Linked DNA regions of Homo sapiens. The protein of the gene in region 2 interacts with the protein of the main gene of each other region in a pairwise test. Each region holds a gene or a part of one and is shown on either strand. Other genes may lie near its edges.

What was found.
Region 1: the proteins of SDHAF4 (region 2) and UPK1B interact in binary tests that used the Homo sapiens proteins (3 or more experiments, as listed by UniProt).

The regions. Positions count from the first base shown.
Region 1 is NC_000003.12:119,166,854-119,178,622, reverse strand, and holds the start of UPK1B (uroplakin-1b), read right to left. Parts: upstream 5,026-11,769; 5' UTR 4,985-5,025; intron 1-4,984. UniProt on the Homo sapiens protein: Component of the asymmetric unit membrane (AUM); a highly specialized biomembrane elaborated by terminally differentiated urothelial cells.
Region 2 is NC_000006.12:70,560,406-70,573,210, reverse strand, and holds the start of SDHAF4 (succinate dehydrogenase assembly factor 4, mitochondrial precursor), read right to left. Parts: upstream 6,282-12,805; 5' UTR 6,271-6,281; coding exon 6,207-6,270; intron 1-6,206. UniProt on the Homo sapiens protein: Plays an essential role in the assembly of succinate dehydrogenase (SDH), an enzyme complex (also referred to as respiratory complex II) that is a component of both the tricarboxylic acid (TCA) cycle and the mitochondrial electron transport chain, and which couples the oxidation of succinate to fumarate with the reduction of ubiquinone (coenzyme Q) to ubiquinol.

The DNA.
Region 1 (11,769 bases), on a different chromosome or scaffold from region 2:
GTTTTTGGTATGAATTTAGGCCAAAATGATCTACTTACTTATTTTAAATTTAGTAGACCAAAATTTTCTGGTATTCTACAAAGATAAACATGGCTTCCAAGTGCCAGCCACTTAGCCAATCTTGAGATCCACTGTCCTAAAACACAGCTCTGAATTTATATCTCCCCCCTGCTTAGAACCCTTCAAAGGTTCCCTGTAGCCTAAATTCAAAGGAGAGCCCTCGGTCATTCCCTCTGCACTTACAAGCCCAGCCACCAGCTCCTACTTACTTCCTATTGCCAGGTTCATCACTTGTCCCCCCACTCTCTGTTGCTGACCAGTTTCTTTGAATCCAGATTTGCTCCTGTTCCCTTCTGAAAGACCAGTCTATAGTATTTGGCCAGACCCAACTATTATATTTTCCATTCAGCCAGTGGAGGAGTGGTTGGACCACCTAAGAGATAAAGTACAAACTCCTCAGTGTGTATTCAAGGCAGCACCCATCCAGGTTCTAAATGGCCTGCCTGCCATTTTTCACTGCGTGCCCCACCCCCCCAACCCTTTGGTGTCCTGGTCATGCCACCATGCTGTGCTTAGGGTGTCCCTGTCTTTGGAATCCCTTCTCCCATTTCTGCCTATCGAACTCTTTACCACCTTCCGAAGCCCAGCTGAAAAACCTCTTCTCTCCTCAACTTCTCTTACCCAGAATTATCCTTCCTTCCCTATATCCCTCTCTCTGCCTATAGCAAATAGCTCTCCAGGGAAGCTGAAACCATTGTGGATATGTGTTTATGGCTTTTCTTCCATACTAGCCTCTGCCACAGCAATATAGTCTGGTACGTTGTTACGTCTTTTCTTCACCCAAGTTTGTTTAATAAGATATTCTGAAGCCACAAAAATTGGATTGCTGTGCATCAAAAAAGCCAATTTAACAAATAATTGCATTAAAAAGCAAAATTATAAACTTTTAAATTAATTGACGGGTGTCACACTTAGAAGTCAATGACTACACTTTTGGTAGTTTTTGTTTGTCTTAGAAGATATGTAATTTGAGAGACATTAAAGTGTCATTCATCCTAGGACAGTTATTGGCCAGGTGCCTGTTCACGGCATGATACATCAGTTCTGGCTGCAAACTTGGAGGCTTTGTACAGGTGAGAAATTTAAGGCTCACAGAGAGAAAGTGACTTGTTCACGATCATGATGTGTTATTAAAAGAGTTAAGATTCAAGTCCAGGTTTCCTAACTCTTAACCCAGCCTTCTATGGGGTTTGTCACTAATGATTATTCTTTTTAAGGTAGGGAGATCCACTTCCCTTTACGTCTTTTTAAATTAAGAGAAACTCTTGACCTCCCACCTGTGAGCCTACCCATGAGACTCACTACAAGATAAGCCAGAAAGGGAGCCACATAAACAAAGCTGGCAGGGAGAAAGCCTTCTATCCTTTTCCTTCATTCAAAGGCTTCCTCACCGTTTACCCTAACTTCTGAATGCCACAATTTGAGACTCACTCCTTCATTCCTGATTAAAATGCAAGCTCATATAAAAGAGGCACATTGAGTTTCATGAGCCATCCATGTCAATGCCTCATTTATCAGCTCCCTTCTCTTATTTAATTTTCAAAGGGCGAGGGAAGACACCATGAGAAGGAAAGAGACCCAAGGAGAGGGTAGAACCTAAAAAGACAAACCTCGTAACTTATGATTTGGGGGTTTGGGTCTGTCTCTCTGGCTATACTGACTTCTAATGATATGATGTGTCCTCTTTCCTGCCTTCTCTTTTAGCCCACAGTATGTAGAAACTGTTTTAGATATGTGGTCTTCTGAACCCTCCCCACGTTATTCTAAAACAATGCCTCCCTGACTATATTGGATTACTTATCTGGCAGGGGTGGGAAGGAAACCAATGGGATGAGTTACATTTAACAAGTGGAAAGCGGTGGAAGGCAGAGGGCAGAGCAGCAACTGCCCGCGTTAGAGATGGAACGCCCCAGACTGAAAGTACGCAACTCACCTCGAAATATTTTCCATGTAAAGGAATAGCCCCTGTGCACCCCGCCCTGTGGGAAAACTGCCCTGTGGCCTGGTATGATGATGATTTACTCAAATTGCTCAATACCCTGGGAGTTCCTTTGCTTTAAAGAGTGCAGATTTTTTTAAAGCTAGAATTATATTTCTTGTTTTTTCTTTATTGTGCTTTCACTCAGTTTGTTTTCCTATAAAAATTAATCATACCCGTAGTGTTGATGTTTCCAGACACATTGAAAGGTCTAAAAACAATTGCTCACTAAACAAACCAATTTGCAAAGCAGAAGAAAAAGAAGTGAGACTCGCCCAGTAAGCATGAGATCATTTTTTCAAGTTCATTACCTCTTTTCCTCACCCAAGTTTGTTGTACCAGAGAACACACAAACCACACCTCAAACTTTAGTTCATGCTAGAGAAATTTGAATTAACAAAGGAGAAAAAAAGAAAAGGAAAAATAGGAGAGGAAGAAACAAAGAAACACAATATGCGATTGCCTTAGCCCTCACCCTGAAACTCAGCACAAGAACAGACACTTCCTTGGCTCAGAGTAAAGATGGGTGTGGAGATTGTAGGTCACAACAATTGCTGGTCTGCTTCAACTTAAGGTAGGATAAGTCCCTGGAAATAACAAAAAGAGGAGGTTTCTCCCAGGGCTGTCACCCATGGCTCACAGTGCCCATAAGTTTTTCTTGCTTTAAAGCTCTAAACCTGTGTTGACTAATACAGTAGTTAGTAGTTGCATGCAGTTATTTAAAGTCAAAAGAATTCAATTAAATAAAAGTAAAAATCAGTTCCTCAGTTGCTCCAACCACATCTCAAGCACTCCCTAGATACATGTGGTTAGTGTCTATTATCTAGAACATTTCCCTCATCACAGAAAGTTTTACTGGACAGCACTGCTCTTGATTCCTGGTGCTCCCAGTATGATGGGAGTCATCCACCCATTGGAAATCAGGGACTAGCTGTAAGCAATGGCTCAGGAGCACTCAGTTGCACGAGGGCCTCAGGTGTGGGCATTGCCAGAGAGATGCCCAGCTCCAGGGCAGGAGTACTATGGAGAGTCCTTGGGGCGGGGGGGAGGGGGTGGGCAGGCGGGTAGGGCGGTGTGTGATGATGGTGCCCCCTCACCAATGTGGTCTCTGTCCCAGTTGGTGAATGGTGGCCCATCAAGTTTGTGGGCAGCCTGCATGGCTATCAGGCACAAATTCCAGAGCATATTTAAAGGCTGGCTGGTGTTTACTCTGGTTAAGATTGTAAGCAGGAGAAGTCAAAAAGAAGTTCTGAGTTTTGGCCGGGTGCGGTGGCTCAAGCCTGTAATCTCAGCACTTTGGGAGGCTGAGGTGGATGGATCACGAGGTCAGGAGATTGAGACCATCTTGGCTAACACGGTGAAACCCCGTCTCTACTAAAAATACAAAAAATTGGCCGGGCGTGGTGGCAGACACCTGTAGTCCCAGCTACTCGGGAGGCTGAGGCAGGAGAATGGCATCTACCCGGGAGGCAGAGCTTGCAGTGAGCAGAGATCACGCCACTGCACTCCAGCCTGGGCCTCAGAGTGACTCCGTCTCAAAAAAAAAAAAAAAAAAAAAAAAAAAAAAAAAAAGAAAATAAAAGAAAAAAAAAGTTCTGAGTTTCTTTTTTTTCCCCTTGATTAAATGATGTCTAAGGTCCCCTTTGGATGTAAAAGTCTATGATTCTTCCCAGCAGTTAAAAAAAAAAAAAATAGGTGAGTTGATTTTAAAGACTATTTTATAGCAGAAAGCAAAACAATCTGTTGGAGCAGAAAGCAAAGTAAGAAATTTTTCTCCTCACTGAGAAGGTTAATAAAAAGAAAATCCACTTCTTCATAGGGTCTGAAAACTATGTAACCTAAATTTTGTTTATACTCAAAGTATGTATATCTATAAAACCTAATGAGTTCTTTCCTGTTGTGCTTAGCAACTCAGGCAAGAAATGTTCAAGAAACGTTGTCTTTCATTAAAAGAAGACATTCAAGTTAACAAAACTTCTTTAAAAATTTATTTTTATTTTTTTTAGAGACAGGATCTCACTATGTTGCCCAGCCTGGACTAGAACTCCTGATCACGTGGCCTCAGCTTCCCGAATAGCTGGAACTGCAGGCATGTGCCACTGTGACTGGCTACGAATTCTTAAATGGCTTAAAAATCTTTAAAACTAGTTAGAAGTGGAGTTTTAGGTTTATAAACAAATGCAAACATAAAATAATACTAGCATTATTTGAAACTTAAATTTGTATTTTGTGTGAAAATGTGATCAGAATGAAAAATATCTTTATGTCCTGCAGATCATGGTGGAGCAAAGAATTGGTAAGGAGTAAAAACAAATTATGTAAAAATAACATTGCGTAGATAAAGCTACTTTGTTGACTTACTTCAACTGACACATTTATTAAGCAGAAGTGTTTGCAGAGAATAACTGGGAGTAAATTGCTTCACACATTTCATTACAGGTTGGCAGGACCAAATGATTTCTGACAAGAAGACCAAGAAACTTTCTCTCTGCTAGCCTGAACAGATTATTAAGAAATAACACGAGCTATTTCGTTAAACTTTCTATTGCTTTTCTGACTCCACAAGGAAATTGGGGGTCTACAAAGGTGACTGTCTATGTGCGATTTAATCAGGAGATATAGGGTTTCTCGGGGTGCTTGGATTTTCTTGTTCTTTCTGTGGGGATATCTGAGGTTGAAAGCAGGATGGCTGCGTAATATCTCCAGAAGTTTAATGAGAACAAGACTTATATCAAGGGTATTAAGAAAGCAATTCCAACGGTTCAAAGTAAAAGAGAACAGGACAGTCACAATACCCTAAATTACAAAGAAAAAAATGACAGACTTTATGAATCAAGAATCTAACTTCTTCCCCTTTCCCTCCCAGTCTGCTAGCTTCCCTCCCAGGAGAGCAACCCAGCCCTTGAGCCCGGGAGATTCCCTGCAGAGGGAAAGCGGTCTACTCACAGCGCCTCCTCTTTCTGCGCACACGGTAGGGCCCGCTCCGCAGTCTGCACCCGACCCAGGTGCTTTTCTACCCTCCTGCAATTCTTTGAACCTCCAGGACCAGGGAAGGGTAGTCTGTGATTGGCAGGAGGCACCTCACATGGGCTGAGCTTTCCGCTGCCTGCCCTGCCTCGCTGAGGCGGGGGAGTAACCGGAGGCTGTCAGTTGATTTCTGCTGCTTTGGAATGTGTGACTCTGACAGATGGAAGCACCTTGACAGCCACACTCATCGCTTTCCTGGATCCCTCCTAGGTTTGGGCTTTACTGGAATACAAACTCAGGGATTTTATTTTGATTTGATTTGATTTGATTTGTGTAATTTGATCCTTACTCCTGCTTTTGTGTGTTGAAGGCTTGTTAGTCCTGACCGCTCACAGCGATGCTGATATGTGCTTACCTGTGTAGGGCCATGTCCAGTTTTAGTTTCTATAATTTGCATATGCCAAATTCAGAGAGACAGTAATTGCCCAAGTAATGCTCATACTGTAGGTGGCCCAAAGACTGATAAGGAGCAAGAGATGTGGAAAGAAACAGATTGGGAAAAATTCACGGAGAGAGAGGGCTCAAGTGATTATCTGATGTCCAATTCTTCCCTCCCCTCTTCTTCCCTCCCTTTCTCTTCTCTTCCCTTCCCTTCTTTTTTCCTTCTTCCCTGACTTCTGGAGCCATCATGTGTTATACATGGCACCCAGAACATTATTTTAATGGCTGCATAACCTATCATGGTATACATGCGCCATCGCTTGTTTAACCTGAGTTAGGAATCGGTAACTGCAGTAATGTTAGAATTTACTGAGTGCTTTTACCAATAGACTTGGGAGTTCCTCAAAGGTCAGCATCATCTCTGTTGCAGGTTAGGTTGTTCAGGAGCAGACTTTGAGACAAAATTTAGTGTGCAATATATTTATTAGACAGTGCCCTGAGATTAACACCCATGGCAGGGAGAGGGGAGAAACAGGACTGGGCAGAGGAAGAAGTTGAGCTGCAATATAGATGGGACAGTCTTAAGCAGCCCTCCTCAGGAAACTCTGGAGGAAGATGGCCTGTCAGAGTAGCTCTGACACTGGGCTCCTCTATGATCTGCCCTTCAATGTGGATTACCCTGGGAAGGCAGCTTTCTGTAGCTGAGGCAAGTCCTGAAAGGGGCTGATAACTGGAGGCTGGAGGTTGCAAGTACTCCCAGCAGCAGGGCAACCTCCCACTTCAAGGGGGACTGCATGGAGCACCTCTGTGTCCATCACAAGGCCTTATTCCTCTGCAGCTCTTCAGGGCCTTGTTAGATAAATTATCATATTTCACACAATAGAATTCTGTGCAATGGTTAAAAATGACACCACAGATAAACATTTAATGGTATGGAAATAAGTTCAGTCATTTATTTGACAAATATTTATTGAAAACTTAGGATGTGCCAGGCACTCTTCTAGAGGCTGAAAATGAAAAAGCGGTTTACAAAATAGTTTGTGTAATCTGACACATTTTAATTTTTAAGAAAGTTTACCTATGACTTAAAAAGTTAGAAATAGTATACAGCAAACATTAACCAGAATATATCTGAATGGTAAAATATGGGTGACTTTTACAGTCTTCTATTTTTGCAGTTCATATGTTTACAAAGGATCTATATTATAATTATAAGAACGTACAAGTTATTAAAAACATGTGCTGTCCTGGAAATATTTGTGATAAAGTAGCAAGGAAGCAAACAAGGACATGTGAATTTTCATTCATGTCTTAGGCATTTTATGTTCCATTACCATGATTATATGGGGAGAAAACAAAAAGATTTGAAAATCTTCAAAATAGATAATGTGAACACAAACCCAATAACAAGAGACAAGAGACTAGCTAGGAAAAGGAAGATTAGTTTTCAGATAATAACTGCAACTGAATAGTTGAGGAACGTCAAGTCGTTAATGTATGACAGGCTTATTTTTTTCCAGTTAATTTATTTCTAACTCTCTTCTGCTAATCTTCCTTTCTCTCTGGCTAGGTGGCTCCCTTACCCACATCTTAACCTGATTCCAAGCTCATCAGTGAATTCTCATTACTAATATCTCACTTCTGTTAGAAACACTTAGATATTTTCTTCCTATCACCACAATTCAAACTACAGACTCCAGTAGTTTTGGGGAGAAGTTGAGGTCTTTAATAACCCCCCAACTCCCTGTGTATGTTCATTTGAGAGGGAAATGATGTCGTCCTGTGTGAGTGGCCAGAGAGAGGCTCTATCCCTTTCTGTTGGCCATCCCCACTGTCTAGTTCACCACCACCAGCAGCAGTGTAGACAAGGGCAGTGCACAGGGCTGGCCGAGGAGAGCCCTACTGAACCCCACGAGTTCCTAAGCCTCAGAGGGTGCTCTGCCTCATTCATTGGTTTGCAGTCAGTCTTTGTCCTTCAATCTCACCTACCCTCCAGGACCCCAGTTCTCAGGTGGCTGGGTTCTACCTTCTGCACATCTCAGGAACCTAGAACTAAAGGTGGCATGCTTGTCCCCTTCTCTGTCGGGCCATACCACTGCACCATCACCCTCCAAAGCTTTTCCTTCTCTGTGGTAGTTCCAAGGCAAGTTAGCAGGCCTGGTGACTCATGTGATATTTAACTGGGCTAGAAGAATTGGTCCTACATACACACTCAAACTTTTCAGTCCTCATGAGGTTTTCCTCTGTCATCTTCGGGGCAAGGAACCACTGGAATGTTTGTCTTCTCTGCATTCCCTAACAGATCCCTCACTTCAAATTGACTTTCCTATGGCGAGGTAGGGAGTTATAGTGCAAACTGGGTGAGAAAGAGGCTGCCTCCCTACTGGAAGTTCGGAAAGTGGGTTATTTAATGCCTTTTGCTTTCTCTAGTTACCAATTTCAGCAAAAACACTTCTCAAAACATGATGTTGTCTACAATATTTTTAATATATAGTAAAAGTCCCAGGTACTGCCAAATTTACTCTTCACAATATCCCTTTTTTTTATTATTATACTTTAAGTTTTAGGGTGCATGTGTACAACATGCAGGTTTGTTACATATGTATACATGTGCCATGTTGGTGTACTGCACCCATTAACTCGTCATTTAGCATTAGGTATATCTTCTAATGCTATCCCTCCCCCGTCCCCCCACCCCACAACAGTCCCTGGTGTGTGATGTTCCCCTTCCTGTGTCCATGAGTTCTCATTGTTCAATTCCCATCTATGAGTGAGAACATGCAGTGTTTGGTTTTTTGTCCTTGAGATAGTTTGCTGAGAATGATGGTTTCCAGCTTCATCCATTTCCCTGCAAAGGATATGAACTCATCATTTTTTCTGGCTGCATAGTATTCCACGGTGTATATGTGCCACATTTTCTTAATCCAGTCTATCGTTGGACATTTAGGTTGGTTCCAAGTCTTTATTATTGTGAATAGTGCCGCAATAAACATACGTGTGCATGTGTCTTTATAGCAGCATGATTTATAATCCTTTGGGTATATACCCAGTAATGGGATGGCTGGGTCAAATGGTATTTCTAGTTGTAGATCCCTGAGGAATCGCCACACTGACTTCCACAATGGTTGAACTAGTTTACAGTCCCACCAACAGTGTAAAAGTGTTCTTATTTCTCCACATCCTCTCCAGCACCTGTTGTTTCCTGACTTTTTAATGATTGCCATTCTAACTGGTGTGAGATGGTATCTCCTTGTGGTTTTGATTTGCATTTCTCTGATGGCCAGTGATGATGAGCATTTTTTCATGTGTTTTTTGGCTGCATAAATGTCTTCTTTTGGGAAGTGTCTGTTCATATCCTTCACCCACTTTTTGATGGGGTTGTTTGTTTTTTCCTTGTAAATTTGTTTGAGTTCATTGTAGATTCTGGATATTAGCCCTTTGTCAGATGAGTAGGTTGCAAAAATTGTCTCCCATTCTGTAGGTTGCCTGTTCACTCTGATGGTGGTTTCTTTTGCTGTGCAGAAGCTCTTGAATTTAATTAGATCCCATTTGTCAATTTTGGCTTTTGTTGCCATTGCTTTTGGTGTTTTAGACATGAAGTCCTTGCCCATGCCTATGTCCTGAATGGTATTGCCTAGGTTTTCTTCTAGGGTTTTTATGGTTTTAGGTCTAACATTTATGTCTTTAATCCATCTTGAATTAATTTTTCTGTAAGGTGTAAGGAAGGGATCCAGTTTCAGCTTTCTACATATGGCTAGCCAGTTTTCCCAGCACCGTTTATTAAATAGGGAATCCTTTCCCCATTGCTTGTTTTTCTCAGGTTTGTCAAAGATCAGATAGTTGTAGATATGCGGCGTTATTTCTGAGGGCTCTGTTCTGTTCCATTGATCTATATCTCTGTTTTGGTACCAGTACCATGCTGTTTTGGTTACTGTAGCCTTGTAGTATAGTTTGAAGTCAGATAGCGTGATGCCTCCAGCTTTGTCCTTTTGGCTTAGGATTGACTTGGCAATGCGGGCTCTTTTTTGGTTCCATATGAACTTTAAAGTAGTTTTTTCCAATTCTGTGAAGAAAGTCATTGGTAGCTTGATGGGGATGGCATTGAATCTATAAATTACCTTGGGCAGTATGGCCATTTTCATGATATTGATTCTTCCTACCCATGATCATGGAATGTTCTTCCAGTTGTTTGTATCCTCTTTTATTTCATTGAGCAGTGGTTTGTAGTTCTCCTTGAAGAGGTCCTTCATATCCCTTGTAAGTTGGATTTGTAGGTATTTTATTCTCTTTGAAGCAATTGTGAATGGGAGTTCACTCATGATTTGTTTCTCTGTTTGTCTGTTATTGGTGTATAAGAATGCTTGTGATTTTTGTACATTGATTTTGTATCCTGAGACTTTGCTGAAGTTGCTTATCAGCTTGAGGAGATCTTGGGCTGAGATGATGGGGTTTTCTAGATATACAGTCATGTCGTCTGCAAACAGGGACAATTTGACTTCCTCTTTTCCTAACTGAATACCCTTTATTTCCTTCTCCTGCCTGATTGCCCTGGCCAGAACTTCCAACACTATGTTGAATAGGAGTGGTGAGAGAGGGCATCCCTGTCTTGTGCCCGTTTTCAAAGGGAATGCTTCCAGTTTTTGCCCATTCAGTATGATATTGGCTGTGGGTTTTTCATAGATAGCTCTTATTATTTTGAGATATATCCCATCAATACCTAACTTATTGAGAGTTTTTAGCATGAAGTGTTGTTGAATTTTGTCAAAGGCCTTTTCTGCATCTATTGAGATAATCATGTGGTTTTGGTCTTTGGTTCTATTTATATGCTGGATTACATTTATTGATATGCGTATATTGAACCAGCCTTGCATCCCAGGGATGAAGCCCACTTGATCATGGTGGATAAGCTTTTTGATGTGCTGCTGGATTCAGTTTGCCAGTATTTTATTAAGGATTTTTGCATCGATGTTCATCAAGGATATTGGTCTAAAATTCTCTTTTTTGGTTGTGTCTCTGCCAGGCTTTGGTATCAGGATGATGCTGGCCTCATAAAATGAGTTAGGGAGGATTCCCTCTTTTTCTGTTGACTGGAATAGTTTCAGAAGGAATGGTACCAGCTCCTCTTTGCACCTCTGGTAGAATTCGGCGGTGAATCCATCTGGTCCTGGACTTTTTTTGATTGGTAAGCTATTGATTATTGCCTCAATTTCAGAGCCTGTTATTGGTCTTTTCAGAGATTCAACTTCTTCCTCGTTTAGTCTTGGGATGATGTATGTGTCGAGGAATTTATCCATTTATTGTAGATTTTCTAGTTTATTTGTGTAGAGGTGTTTATAGTATTCTCTGATGGTAGTTTGTATTTCTGTGGGATTGGTGGTGACATCCCCTTTATAATTTTTTATTGCGTCTATTTGATTCTTCTCTCTTTTCTTCTTTATTAGTCTTGCTAGCATTCTATCAATTTTGTTGATCTTTTCAAAAAACCAGCTCCTGGATTCATTAATTTTTTGAAGGGTTTTTTGTGTCTCTATTTCCTTCAGTTCTGCTCTGATCTTAGTTATTTCTTGCCTCCTGCTAGCTTTTGAATGTGTTTGCTCTTGCTTCTCTAGTTCTTTTAATGGTGATGTTAGGGTGTCAATTTTAGATCTTTCCTGCTTCCTCTTGTGGGCATTTAGTGCTATAAATTTCCCTCTACACACTGCTTTGAATGTGTCCCAGAGATTCTGGTATGTTGTGTCTTTGTTCTCATTGGTTTCAAAGAACATCTTTATTTCTGCCTTCATTTCATTATATACCCAGTAGTCATTCAGGAGCAGGTTGTTCAGTTTCCATGTAGTTGAGCGGTTTTGAGTGAGTTTCTTAATCCTGAGTTCTAGTTTGATTGCACTGTGGTCTGAGAGACAGTTTGTTATAATTTCTGTTCTTTCACATTTGCTGAGGAGTGCTTTACTTCCAACTATGTGTTCAGTTTTGGAGTAGGTGTGGTGTGGTGCTGAAAAGAATGTATATTCTGTTGATTTGGGGTGGAGAGTTCTGTAGATGTCTATTAGGTCCGCTTGGTGCAGAGCTGAGTTCAATTCCTGGGTATCCTTGTTAACTTTCTGTCTCATTGATCTGTCTAATGTTGACAGTGGGGTGTTAAAGTCTCCCATTATTATTGTGTGGGAGTCTAAGTCTCTTTGTAGGTCACTAAGGACTTGCTTTATGAATCTGGGTGTTCCTGTATTGGGTGCATATATATTTAGGATAGTTAGCTCTTCTTGTTGAATTGATCCCTTTACCATTATGTAATGGCCTTATTTATCTCTTTTGATCTTTGTTGG
Region 2 (12,805 bases):
GTTGCAAAGAAATTATACAGAAAAACGCATAGAGACAAATGAATAAAAATAATGAAAGATTAGCTGGGCATGACTGCATGACGGTGGTGCCTATAGTCTTAGCTACTTGGCAGAAGGCTGAGGCGGGAGTATGGCTTGTGTCCTGGAGATCAAGGGTGTAATGAGCTATGACTGCACTACTGCTCTCTATCCTGGTGACAGGACAAGACTCTGTCTCTCAGAAAAAAGAAAAAAGTGTTCCCAGAAGTAAAGTGGGAGATAAGAATACAGAGAAAATGCTTTAACATACTGACTATACAAAAGTCTTTATGTTTATCAAAATCAAAATCTTTATAGGTTTTATCAAAATCAAAATCCCACCCAAAACACACATACCTGTGCATGCATGTGCACACACACACAGACCCACGAGTCTGAACAGAGGAATGTAATTTTATCAGTAATTATAAGGGTAAAGAGACTATTAGTCTGCAAAACAACAAAAACCCCCATACAAACAAACCGGAAACAAGCCATATGCTGTTTATGTGAGATGCACCATTTGCATGTTTAAAAAAAAAACCACGGAAAATGGAAAAATAAGATAATAAGAAAAAAATGAATAAAAACATAATTTACAATGTAAAAATAACTTTCAATATAGTCTTCATTTTTTAATTGATAAATATTATATACATTTATGGTGTACAGCATGTTTTCAAATATGTATATATTGTGAAATAGCTAAATCAAGCTAATATATGCCTTAACTCACATATCTATTATTTGTGATGAGAAAATTTAAAATCTACTTTCAGCAATTTTCAAGTATACAATACACTGATATTAACTATAGTCACCATGTTGTACAATAAATATCCTTTGCATAACTTATAACAAAGAAGATCAACAATAAACAAAGGTTGGTGCTCTGAAAAGACTGAAAGTGTTCCAGCCTGGCCAACATGGTGAAACCTCGTCTCTACTAAAAACACAAAAATTAGCCAGACATGGTGGTGCACGCCTGTAATTCCAGCTATGAGGCTGAGGCAGGAGAATCACTAGAACCCGGGAGGTGGAGGTTGCAGTGAGCCAAGATCGCACCACTGCGCTCCAGCCTGGGCGACAGAGCAAGACTTTGTCTCAAAAAAAAAAAAAAAAAAAAAAAAAAAAGACAAAAAAAGACTGAAAGTGTTGTAAAAGCTTTGGTAAGGCTACTATAAAAAAACAAGAGAAAGCAAAATAGATAATATGAGAAAAAGAGAGTACATATTATATGGAGAGCAGAAAATTTTAAAAAAATACCAGAAACTTTATGCCTATATATTGAAACAATACAAAATGGAAACCTTTCCAGAAAAAGTTAACTTACCAAAACTGACTTAAGAGGAAACCTGATAAATATAATAATAACCATTATAGAAGTTAAACAAGTAATTTAAAGTCTTCCCTCGAAGAGAAGAACAGGTCTAGACAGTTTTGCAGGTGAGTTGTAACAAACCCTCAAGGAACAAATAATTCCAATCTTAAACAAAATCTAACAAAGAAGGGAAAAGAGTGAGTAGAATCCCCAGTACATTATATGAGGCTAGAATAACCTTAATATTAAAACCAGGGAAGGCTGGGCGCGGTGGCTCACACCTGTAATGCCAGCACTTTGGGAGGCCAAGGCAGGCATATCACGAGGTCAGAAGTTTGAGATCAGCCTGGCCAATATGGTGAAACCCTGTCTCTACTAAAAATACAAAAATTAGCTGGGAGTGGTGGCGTGTGCCTGTAATCCCAGCTACTCCGGAGGCTGAGGCAGAAGAATAACTTGAACCCGGGAGGCAGGGGTTTCAGTGTATAATAGAAGAAAATTACAGGCCAATTTCTAAACAAAATATAAGCACAACAAATACAACATTATATTTAAAAATATAATCACTATGATCCTTTGGAATATTTTCTAGGAATGCAAGTGATTCACTATCAGAAAAATCTGTAATTTACCACCTCAACAGATTAAAGCAGAAAATGATAAACACCTCAGTAAGACGAAGAACACCTCAGTAAGACAAAGAAAAATCAATTAAGTAAACTTCAAGATTTATTCATCATTAAAAAACAAATACAAATACATAAACAAAAACAAAACAAAATCCCAAAACTCTACATAGAAACAGACTTCCTTAACCCAAAAAGGGTATAACTGTAGCTAATACCATATTTTTTTTTTCATGTTCCATGAAATTTTATTTCACAAAGGCTTGGACTCTGAAGACCCACAGTTATGGATCATTAAATCCTGTAAGTAAATGTAAATCCAAAATAAAGAGTTTTAACAAAAACATAAGACGGAGATTTTTTGGTTTAAAAGAACAGAATTATTTGGGAGATAGCTAGAACTCTTCCCTGAGGATTCGTTTATAAAACATGCCTTAGAAGTTATTAGGAGATGGTGACTTAAAAAAAAATGTAGCAATTTTATCTAAATGACTGCAATATCACACCTTAATGATAAAAAGAAATGCATTCCCTTTATAATCATAAACAAGATAAGTATGCTTGCTGTCAACACTTCTAGTCAACATGGTGCTGGAAATCTGAGCAAAGAAAGAAAAAAGATATAAGGATTAGACAGGGAGGGTGGTGGGGGGCACGGTGGCTCTCGCCTGTAATCCCAGGACTTTGAGAGGCCGAGGCTCTCAAGGATCACTTGGCTAACATGGCAAAACCCCATCTCTAAAAAAAATATAAAAATTAGCCGGGCATGGTGGTGCACACCAGTAATCCCAGCTACTCGGGAGGCTGAGGCAGGAGAATCACTTGATTTCGGGAGGTGGAGGTTGCAGTGAGCAGAGATTGCGCCACTGCACTCCAGCCTGGGTGACAGAGCAAGACCCTTTCTCAAAAAAAAGGATTAGACAGGGAGAAACTAGACTGTCACCATTTGCAGATGATATGAATGGCTATGCAGCAAAGTCCCCAAAATCTGCAAAGTAAATTATTTAAATTAATAAGGTAATTTAGATACAAAATCATTAAGCATCATGTTTCTGTACATAAACAACAGTCAGAAAATAGTAAGATTTATAACAAAGTTATGGCTATAATTATCAAGACAGGTAGTATCAGCACAGGAATAGACAAATAGGTCAATGGGACTGAGAAAAGAGCCAAGAAATAAACGTATGCCTATATGTATAAGTAAACTTGATTTATGATGGCTCGCATTATATCAGTAGGGGAAAGGTCCTATAAATACATGAACCTGGGACAAGTGTTTGATATGAAAAAAAATGAAAACTGGTTTCCTGCCTCACACCATATACAAACCATCAATTCCTGGTAGAATAAAGGCTTAAATGTGAAAAGCAAAACTATAAACCTTTGAGAAGAAAATATAAGAGATTATGTCCATGACTTTAGGGTACAGAAGGGTTTCTTAGACAAGACCACAAGGCAGTCACAATAAACAAAAGGATCAAGACAAAATTTTATAGATAAAATTATAAACATCTGTTTATTAAGATACCTTTTATATTGAAGCTGCATGATTACACATGCAGACCCGTTATTCTATTCTGCCTAGCAGTGACAGAAACAAACCACAAATTGAGGTATTTGACACTTACGTAACTAAAAAAGGTTTAGCATACAAATATATGTAAAGAATATAAATAAGAAGCAATCTGTTAAGAAAAAAGGCCGGGCGTGGCAGCTCACGCCTGTAATCCCAACACTTCGGTAGGCCGAGGCTGATAGATCACCTGAGTTCATGGCAAAACCCTGTCTCTACCAAAAATACAAAAAATTATCTGGGTGTGGTGGTGGGCGCCTGTAATACCAGCTACTTGGGAGGCTGAGGCAGGAGAATCGTTTGAACTCAGGAGGCAGATGTTGCAGTGAGCTGAGATCTCGCCATTGCACTCCAGCCTGGGCAACAAGAGTGAAACTCCGTCTCAAAAACAAAGAAAGAAAAAAGAGGCCGGGTGCGGTGGCTCACGCCTGTAATCCCAGCACTTTGGGAGGCCGAGACGGGCGGATCACGAGGTCAGGAGATCGAGACCATCCTGGCTAACACGGTGAAACCCCGTCTCTACTAAAAATACAAAAATTAGCCGGGCGTGGTGGCGCGCGCCTGTAGTCCCAGCTACACGGGAGGCTGAGGCAGGAGAATGGCGTGAACCCAGGAGGCGGAGCTTGCAGTGAGTCGAGATCGCGCCACTGCACTCCAGCCCGGGCGACAGAGCGAAACTCCGCCTCAAAAAAAAAAAAAAAAAAAAAGAAAAAAGAAAGAGGTATTTCACAAAAAGTGAATATTTGAAAAGATGTTTTACTTCTTTAATCAGAGAAAAGCAAAATCACAATGAGGTGTCATTTCATTTCCCTGTAGGCAGCCAAAAATTAAAACCTAAGGCAAAATTAAGTTTCGGCAAGTTTGTGGAACAACAGAACTCCAATACACTGCTGGTAGAAGTGAAAATTGCTATAGAATTAGAAAATGCCGTTACACCTTGGCATTATATTGTAACAATGAAAAGACCTATAACATACTCCAGGAATTCTACTCCTTCCACTAATGCACAAATAAGGTACACAAGAATGTGTAGCACCCAATCCTAGTGTTTCTGGAATTACCCAAATGTCCTTTGAGAAGGGCACTGGAAAATGCATCATATGTTCACACAGTTGAATGAATAACTACAACCTCATGCGTCAATGTGACTCAATCACAAAACACAGCGTTATCTGAAAAAAAATCAACAATATGAAAACATTTCTATAAAGATTAAAAACACCATTGCACAGTTGTATCAGGAAGCAGCAAATAGAGACCTCCTTGGCAATAGAGACTATTTCTTAAATTGGAGTATAAGTTCATAGATGCTGGTTGTGCTTCATAGCTTACATGACTGCTACATAGCTTACATGTGTGCTACGTGTGTGTGTGTGTATACATATATATATATGGAATAATTCATAATTGTTTAAAACTAGTTAAAGGGGGATGTTGAATGAACCCTACAAAATTTTAACGTTATTACCTTGAGGTTTGGATAATGTAGGACTTTCACTTTCTGTATTATTCATTTCTGGACTATTTAAAACTTATACAATTAAGTAAAATGTTTGTATTTGGGTAAAATGATTGCACAAAGGAAAACAAATTGCATAGAAATCTGGCACCATTTGAGGGCAATAATTACTGTTTTCAACTTACATAACTTCTCCAGGTGTCATATATTAAAATTATGTTTTGCGGACCGGGCGCGGTGGCTCACGCCTGTAATCCCAGCACTTTGGGAGGCCGAGGCGAGCGGATCACAAGGTCAGGAGATCGAGACCATCCTGGCTAACACGGTGAAACCCCGTCTCTACTAAAAATACAAAAAATTAGTCAGGCACGGTGGCGGGCGCCTGTAGTCCCAGCTACTCAGGAGGCTGAGGCAGGAGAATGGCGTGAACCTGGGAGGCAGAGCTTGCAGTGAGCCGAGATTGCGCCACTGCACTCCAGCCTGAGGGACAGAGCGAGACTCCATCTCAAAATAAATAAACAAATAAATAAATAAATAAATAAAATTATGTTTTGCATAGTCTGGGCTGCTAACTGTATTATCTTGAGAAAAATTTCCAACAACAATGGGTTTAAAAATGTTGGTTTTACTGAAAGCATGAATGCTTTTTCTGTACTGACAATTCCTGGCTTCATCTAATTTACGTTATACTTATTTGCCTTTGGCTCACTTCTGCACTTTTCCCATTTTTAAAAGATAAACTGTAAACTGCCACAAATCCTTTTCTGCTGGAGCCTGGACCAGGAGCGCGGATTCCTGTAAATAATGATGTAAATAAATAAGTAAATCAATGACTCCCATTCCCAAAGGGCCTTCTTTTCCATTTTTCTCTGGGGCATCGAAGTGCGGTGTGCCCTGCGAGCTCCCACAGGAACAACCCGGAACGTTTGTGGTCCTGTTGGGCCACCGCGTGCTCGGTAGGAAGCGGACGTCCCGGGGGCTGAAAGGGCCTTAGCGATTTTCTCGCTCTAGTCCCACCCGAGACCCGGGGCGCTGCAGGAACCTGCCCAGGCCACCGGGTGGGCGGCTGGGCGGGAGAAGCTGGGCAGCCCCTGGCAACACCGAACGGCCAGGACACACGCGGCTTCCTCCGCGGGAGGCGCTTCTCTCTGCGCCTGGGCCTTCACGACCCCTCCCGCGACCGTGGCCCCGAGGCCAGGTGCTTACTTGCCGCTCTCCACGCCGTGGCCGAGACCCAGCTAAGCAACCAGGGAAGCCTCGATGGGGTCATGGCGCCGACTCCCCGAGCCTCCGCGCAGGCGCAAAGCAGTAGTGGGAGGAGCAGGGGGCATGATCCGGAGCCTCCCTGCAGAGGGCGGGGCCTCCGTGGCCGGCTTTAGAAAAGGAGTTAGAGGCATCCCTGGGCTCTTTGGCCAAGAGAGACCCAGGCTACCTTGAGCCCGGTGTTAAAACGCCAAATCGTGGCTGCAGTTAGAAGAGGGAATAATTCCGTTCCGTTCATGCTTGTCAGTCTGAGCCGAAATGGCCCGTGGAAGATCCCTTTTATAGTTTACAAAGATTGAGCACCTTTTACTCTCTCACTCATGTAAAATGCTTCTTTTACCTAATTCTCCCTGTTTTGTGTTTTAAATCTTTGTTCAGTCAGCTCCTAGTTCGTCCATTCTGACCGACTAACCAGATGATATGAAAGGCGACATTTTTGAATGAGGTGCAAAGCAAGAAAAGGCTCTCCATCCAGGCCAGGATCCAGTGCAATGAGCTCTGCCCCTTAACCCTTACATCCCACCAGCTCTGATAGCGTTGAGTGGATGTGGCAGACCTGGATGCTTTGTGCAACTCGTGGAAATATTTACAGAATCATAGTGAAGGCCCCCAGAATTCTGGAATTTTGTCTTTTCTTTTAAAGAAAAGTTTCTGGCTAGCTATTGCGCCTTGGTAGTGTCTGACCATGTGACATCAAGTGGTTATACGATCGAAGCTTCTTATCATGAACTGAGAATTATCTGGTTCTCCTAGATAAGGAGATCCTTTTACGAAGAGAAAGTGGGCCGGGCAAGGTGGCTCACTCCTGTAATCCGAACACTTTGGGAGGCCGAGGCGGGTAGATTACCTGAGGTCAGGAGTTCGAGACCAGCCTGGCCAACACTCTACTAAAAATACAAAAATTAGCCGGGCGAGGTGGCACATTCCTGTAATCCCAGCTACTTGGGAGGCTGAGGTAGAAGAATCGCTTGAACTCGGGAGGCGGAGATTGCAGTGAGCAGAGATCACGCCACTGCACGCCAGCCTTGGAGACAGAGCAAAACTCCATCTCAAAAACAGAAAAAGAAAAAAGAGAGAAAGTGGGATACACAGAACTGGGCCAAAGTCAAAACGGAAACAGTTTTCATTTGTAGGGAGCTCACAGTCCTAATATCATGCTTTTGACCTTTAGCTTATATCTACAGTTTAATAATGAATTCCTTGTGACTAGCTGACTGAGGAAAAAATTCAAAGTCGGATGATGGCTTTGCTCAATAAACTGGCCCAGCTGGCAACTGACTGCTTTTCATATTTAGAGCCCCACTTAACAGAGGCCCTGAAGGAACAGAACAGGGAAAAAAAATTATTTCCAGCATGCATAATTTAGCTTATTTATGTATTTTATGTTTTTACAGGCACATGTCACCACACCTGGCTGATTTTTCTATTTTTAGTAGAGACAGGGTTTCGCCATGTTGACCAGGCTGGTTTCAAACTCCTGGCCTCAAGGGATCCACCCCTCTCAGCTTCCCAAAGTGCTGGGATTACAGGTGTGAGCCACTGTGCCTGGCCAGAATTTAGCTTATCTTGTATGCTTTGCCTAAAAAGAGACATGGCTTGAGATAAAAATCGACATTTCATAGGCAGTGACTGGTTTGTCAAGTGGCTGGGAACTGGGAATGTAAAAGTTTTGGACTGGGTCTTTGGAATAGGACCTCTCAAAGTGGTCCCAAAGCATGAAAACATTTGGGTCCTATTGAACGTTAAAAAAAAAAAAAAAAAAAAGAGCTTCCATTGCAGAAGGGCTCTTAATCAGAACAAGATTATTAGTTATCTATTGCTGCCTCACAAATTATCCCAAAATTTATTGGCTTAAAGCAATAAACAGTTATTCTCTCACAGTTTTTGTGGATCAGTAACCTAGAAGCCAGAGTGACTGTGGTTCTGGGTCCTAAATGAGGTTGCAGCCAAGCTGTTGGCTGAAGTCCCAGTCTCGTATAAATGCACAACTAAGGGAAGATCTGCTTCCAAGCTCATTCACATGATTATTGGCAAGATTTGGTTCCTTGTGGACTTTGGACTGGAAACCTTCTCAGTTATTTGTTAAGTGGGCTTCTCCAAAGGCTATCTTGCAACATGGCAGCTGGCTTTCCACAGGACAAATGAACTAAGGAGCAAGAAAGACCACTCAAAATGGAAGCCCTGAACTTCTGTAATCTCATTTCGGTAGCGACATCCCACCACTTCCACTGTATCCTATTATTAGGTCCCGGCCACTCTCAAAAGGGGATTACACAAGGGCTGCAACAGTGACCCATTCTGTGGACATCAATTACTCAGCCTCCTTCCCCCACAACAGGTGTGGACTCAGTAACAAGGTAGCCACGGTGGCAAGAATGGAGACATACATGTACTTTTAACACCGTCTTTCTTCTGCCATGACTGATTGGCTACTACCACTACTCGCCAACTGCAGTGACCAACTTGATCCCATGATACACTTTTATGTGGTCTGGGTGGCAGGTCTGATTACAATGAAATCCTACTGTTATGAAGGAGGTTGCAATTTGTTCTTACAGGAAGAGACAATTATTCTGCATTTAGATTGTTTTCCCTGATTTATGCTTATTATATACTTCACCTGTGGACTTACTGAATACCTTAACACACTACTCCATATTTAATACAATATCATATACAACATTGCTTCTTACCGAAGAACTCATTTTCTTGTGAAAGATGTAAAGCAGGGGACTAATGCCTGCAGGATTCACAGTCTTATATATTCCATCATCCAAAAGCAACCGATTTTATGGAATGACGGACAGCCTTATTGAAGGTTGTTTTGGAACGAGGTGAGAAAATACACTTTGGGATACTGCCCTAAAGGATTTGTCATATTTTCCAAATGAGTCAACGGTATTTGGTGATATATCTTCTGTTGACAGAATAACAGAGATCAAAGAGTAGAAAAGGGTCTGACTTCTTACTATTGCATATGACTTACTGATATAAAATATATTTTGCTTTCCATTGTAGTAGAGAAGAGACAAGCTCCGAAGGCCCCTGAACATGCCTGTATATTATTACTGAGTGTGCCAGACTGCAAGCCGTATCCATCTCCTGATGCTAAGCAGTTTCTGTAGTTAGTCATATAGGCACCTAAGTAGGTCAAGGCAATCACAGCATTACTACCATTTAACTGCTGCTCCCTGGGGGAGAGAGACTAGCTTGTTTGTTGTTTGCTCAAAAACTGCTTGATTCTTGATCCTGGATTCTTCTGTAATGCAACCCCCCATGTGCACAGACGTCATCCGGCCCTCTGCATCACACTGTGGGAATTGGGCTACGGGAACTGATGCAAATATGCGGACACTCTGGCTTCTATTTTGCTGTAATAAAGCTGTTTTGTCTTTTGTCCAGGAGTATCCTGTCATCATCCATGAAACTGCAGCAACCTAGCCTGTAACCTTGCAAGTAGGATAAAATCTCAGACCCTTCACTACTCTTGCTAGCCATCTCTGAGTCCAGGTTCTGTTGGTATAGCAATTTTTGTGCCCAGCTGGAATTGCCACCCAGCCATTTTGACCTCATTCCTCTAGGTAAGGTTAGAGAAAGTGGTGATGGTGCTAGCTGGAGTGATTGGCCCTGATGACCATGGAGAAAAGAGAGTAGGGAGAACAGTATAACCAGAAGTCAGGGGGGTCTCCTGGAATCCCTCCTCACAATACCATGTTTTTATATTTTATTTTAAAAAATACCATGCTGAATGGTAACATTTACATATAAGACTATTACAACCATATATAGGCAAGACCACCCACACCTCAGATCCTCTGTCATCCACTGGATACATAAATCTGATCAGCAGAGGTGCTGCTTGAACATAAAGAAAACAGAAAATAGTTGGCAGTGGTGAGAAGTCATAACCATCTAGATTCACGACCACTGACAGGACTAAGTACTGTATTTGCGACGTGTTATTAGAGAAATTTGGGACATAAAACATGCTGCTGCTTTTACACTATCCTGAAAATTCTGATTCAGGTGGTCCGTAATAAGGTCCTAGAATGTGTATTTTTAAAGTAGTCTAGGTAATTCTTGGCACGGACATTGCAAAGCCCTGCTCTATTTTGTTTTCTTCCTCACTGGCTCATGCATGTTTATAAAATTTTCTCTTATTTCATATGTATATATATATTTGAGTTGGGGGGTCTCCCTGTCGCCCAGGCTGAAGTGCAGTAACTCACTGCAACCTTGAACTCCTGGACTCAAGTGATCCTCCCACCTCAGTCTTCCAAGTAGCTGGGACTACAGGTGCATGCCACCAGGCTCACTTAAATTATTTTCTAGAGATGGGGTCTTGCTATGTTGCCCAGGCTGGTCTTGAATTCCTAGCTCAAGTGATCCTCTCACCTCAGCCTCCCAAAGTGCTGGGATTACAGTCATAAGCCACCACGCCCAGCTTCTTTCCTATTATACTGTTATTATGTATAGGGGTGGTGGTTAGGTCACAATTTTGTCTATGAGTTGCACACTATTGAGATGAGATTATTACAGAATCAGAGAACATCACACTGAGGTCCTGGACTTAAAACTGGATGAGGGATAGTAGTACTATGTCAGAAAGATGCATTTTAAATGTGTAAATATGGAGAGAATTATGCTTGCAGATGTTGGGAAGACAAAAAGATGGACTATATTACACCTGATGTGTTTTTATATTTGGTGCTGTCATCAAACCCATTTCATATGTTTGGTTAACCTTGGTAGAATAAAGGGTCCCATTTTCTACTGTGGAAACTAACGAGGTCAGATACATCTGCTGTCTTTGATGCCTGACAGCCCAAGCACTGGCACAAGACTTAAACTTGGTCAGTTGGACATTCTACTACGCTTTGAATCTGAAGTGATAAAACAAGTACTTGAAATCCAGTTTCCAGGGTCATCCTGGCTAGAGAAGAATACAGTCATTTAGCTCTGAGGTCATCAGAACTTGGCTATGCTTTTGGTCATCTACTTTCCTTTGGCTTCTATTTGTTTTCCAAACCTGGCTCTCTAGCCTTTCCATCAATTCTGTGAGCTACCTGATCCTCCTCCAATAAATTCTTTTTCTGTTTAGGTTGATCATAATTTTTTTTGTTGTTTGCAACCAAGAACTCTTACTGGTATACTTCAATGAGATTCATTCTCTAAAGTAAGAGTCAATAATACCATTTCAGATCATTGTTTCCTCTCTCCCCCATAACTGTACCCCATCTCCCACAATCTGAATTTGGAGGTGAATAGTGTGTGGTGGTTTCCCAGATAAATCAAGTAAGTTAAATTTGTTAGATTTTAAACCATGAACACAGATGTGCTTTTAGAACTGTATTAAAATAACCAAAAACTAATCAATCAACTATGATAAGAGCAATTTCCACTCAAATACTATTTATATGATTGAGTCCTTTGATAAACCTGAAAATTATCCAAACTTTGAATATGCACATTTCAAACTCAGAGCCAAGATATAGGAATATAAAAAATGTGCTTGGCAAAAATATGTGGTGGCTAATTAATATATTTACATTTTCTAGTTATAATGCACTTGGGATATTAGTTTATAAAAATTTTGAGTACTTTCTAAAAAGTAAATAATTATCAATAGCAATCAAAATTATTTTAACTATAATAATATATACAAAAGATATAAAAATACAAAGGCTACAAGTTATATAATTAGGCTGGTCTATGTTATAAATAAAATATATATACCTCTAGTATTCAGAGAATAAGCAAAGGATTACAAGGGTTGTAGCTGTTCCTCCAGATAGCCATTTGTTCATTTATTAACACCAGAGGCAATAACAACGCTAAAAATAAACATGCATCAATTGTACAATAAATACTTACAAAAACCTCTGTCTGTCACAATTAGTGAGTGCAAACAGAACTTCTACCCAACCTTAGTGCATTTTTATTTTCACAAGTAAAACAGAAAAGGAAAATAGTGAATTTAATGCTATTCAGCACCTTTAGTAAAGTCAAAAGACTCAACATCTCCATATATCAAAAACATTTGCATCTGTATCACCAAACATGTAAAGTTAATTATTTTGTTCCATCTTTAACATGAATTATTTTATTTACATTACTTTTTAGTTCAATAAATTTTAACAATATTTAAAAATTATCTAAATTCATAAAAGTATTTCATAAATTTCAACATTTAATTATTATGTACATATAAGGAAGTCCATGAAAAAAGTTAAAAGAAAATGTAGTCATAAAGTTCAAGCAACATTACCAATTTAGCAAAAATTCCAACCAAATCAAGGCAGAGGGCATTCAAACATTCAAAAATCTTTATCTGCTGCCAACATGTACAGGAACATTTCCAGTAATAAAAGTCAGTATGAGAAATAATGTTGAAATCACCAGTAGAAAATATATTTTAATAGGCATGAAATATGTTTAAGCAACAGTAATGACTTTATAGAAAACTTGTATTACACTGTTTTATATGAACTACCTGGTTTGATTGTATGATAAAGTTGTATTTTAGAACTACAGAAGTTGAT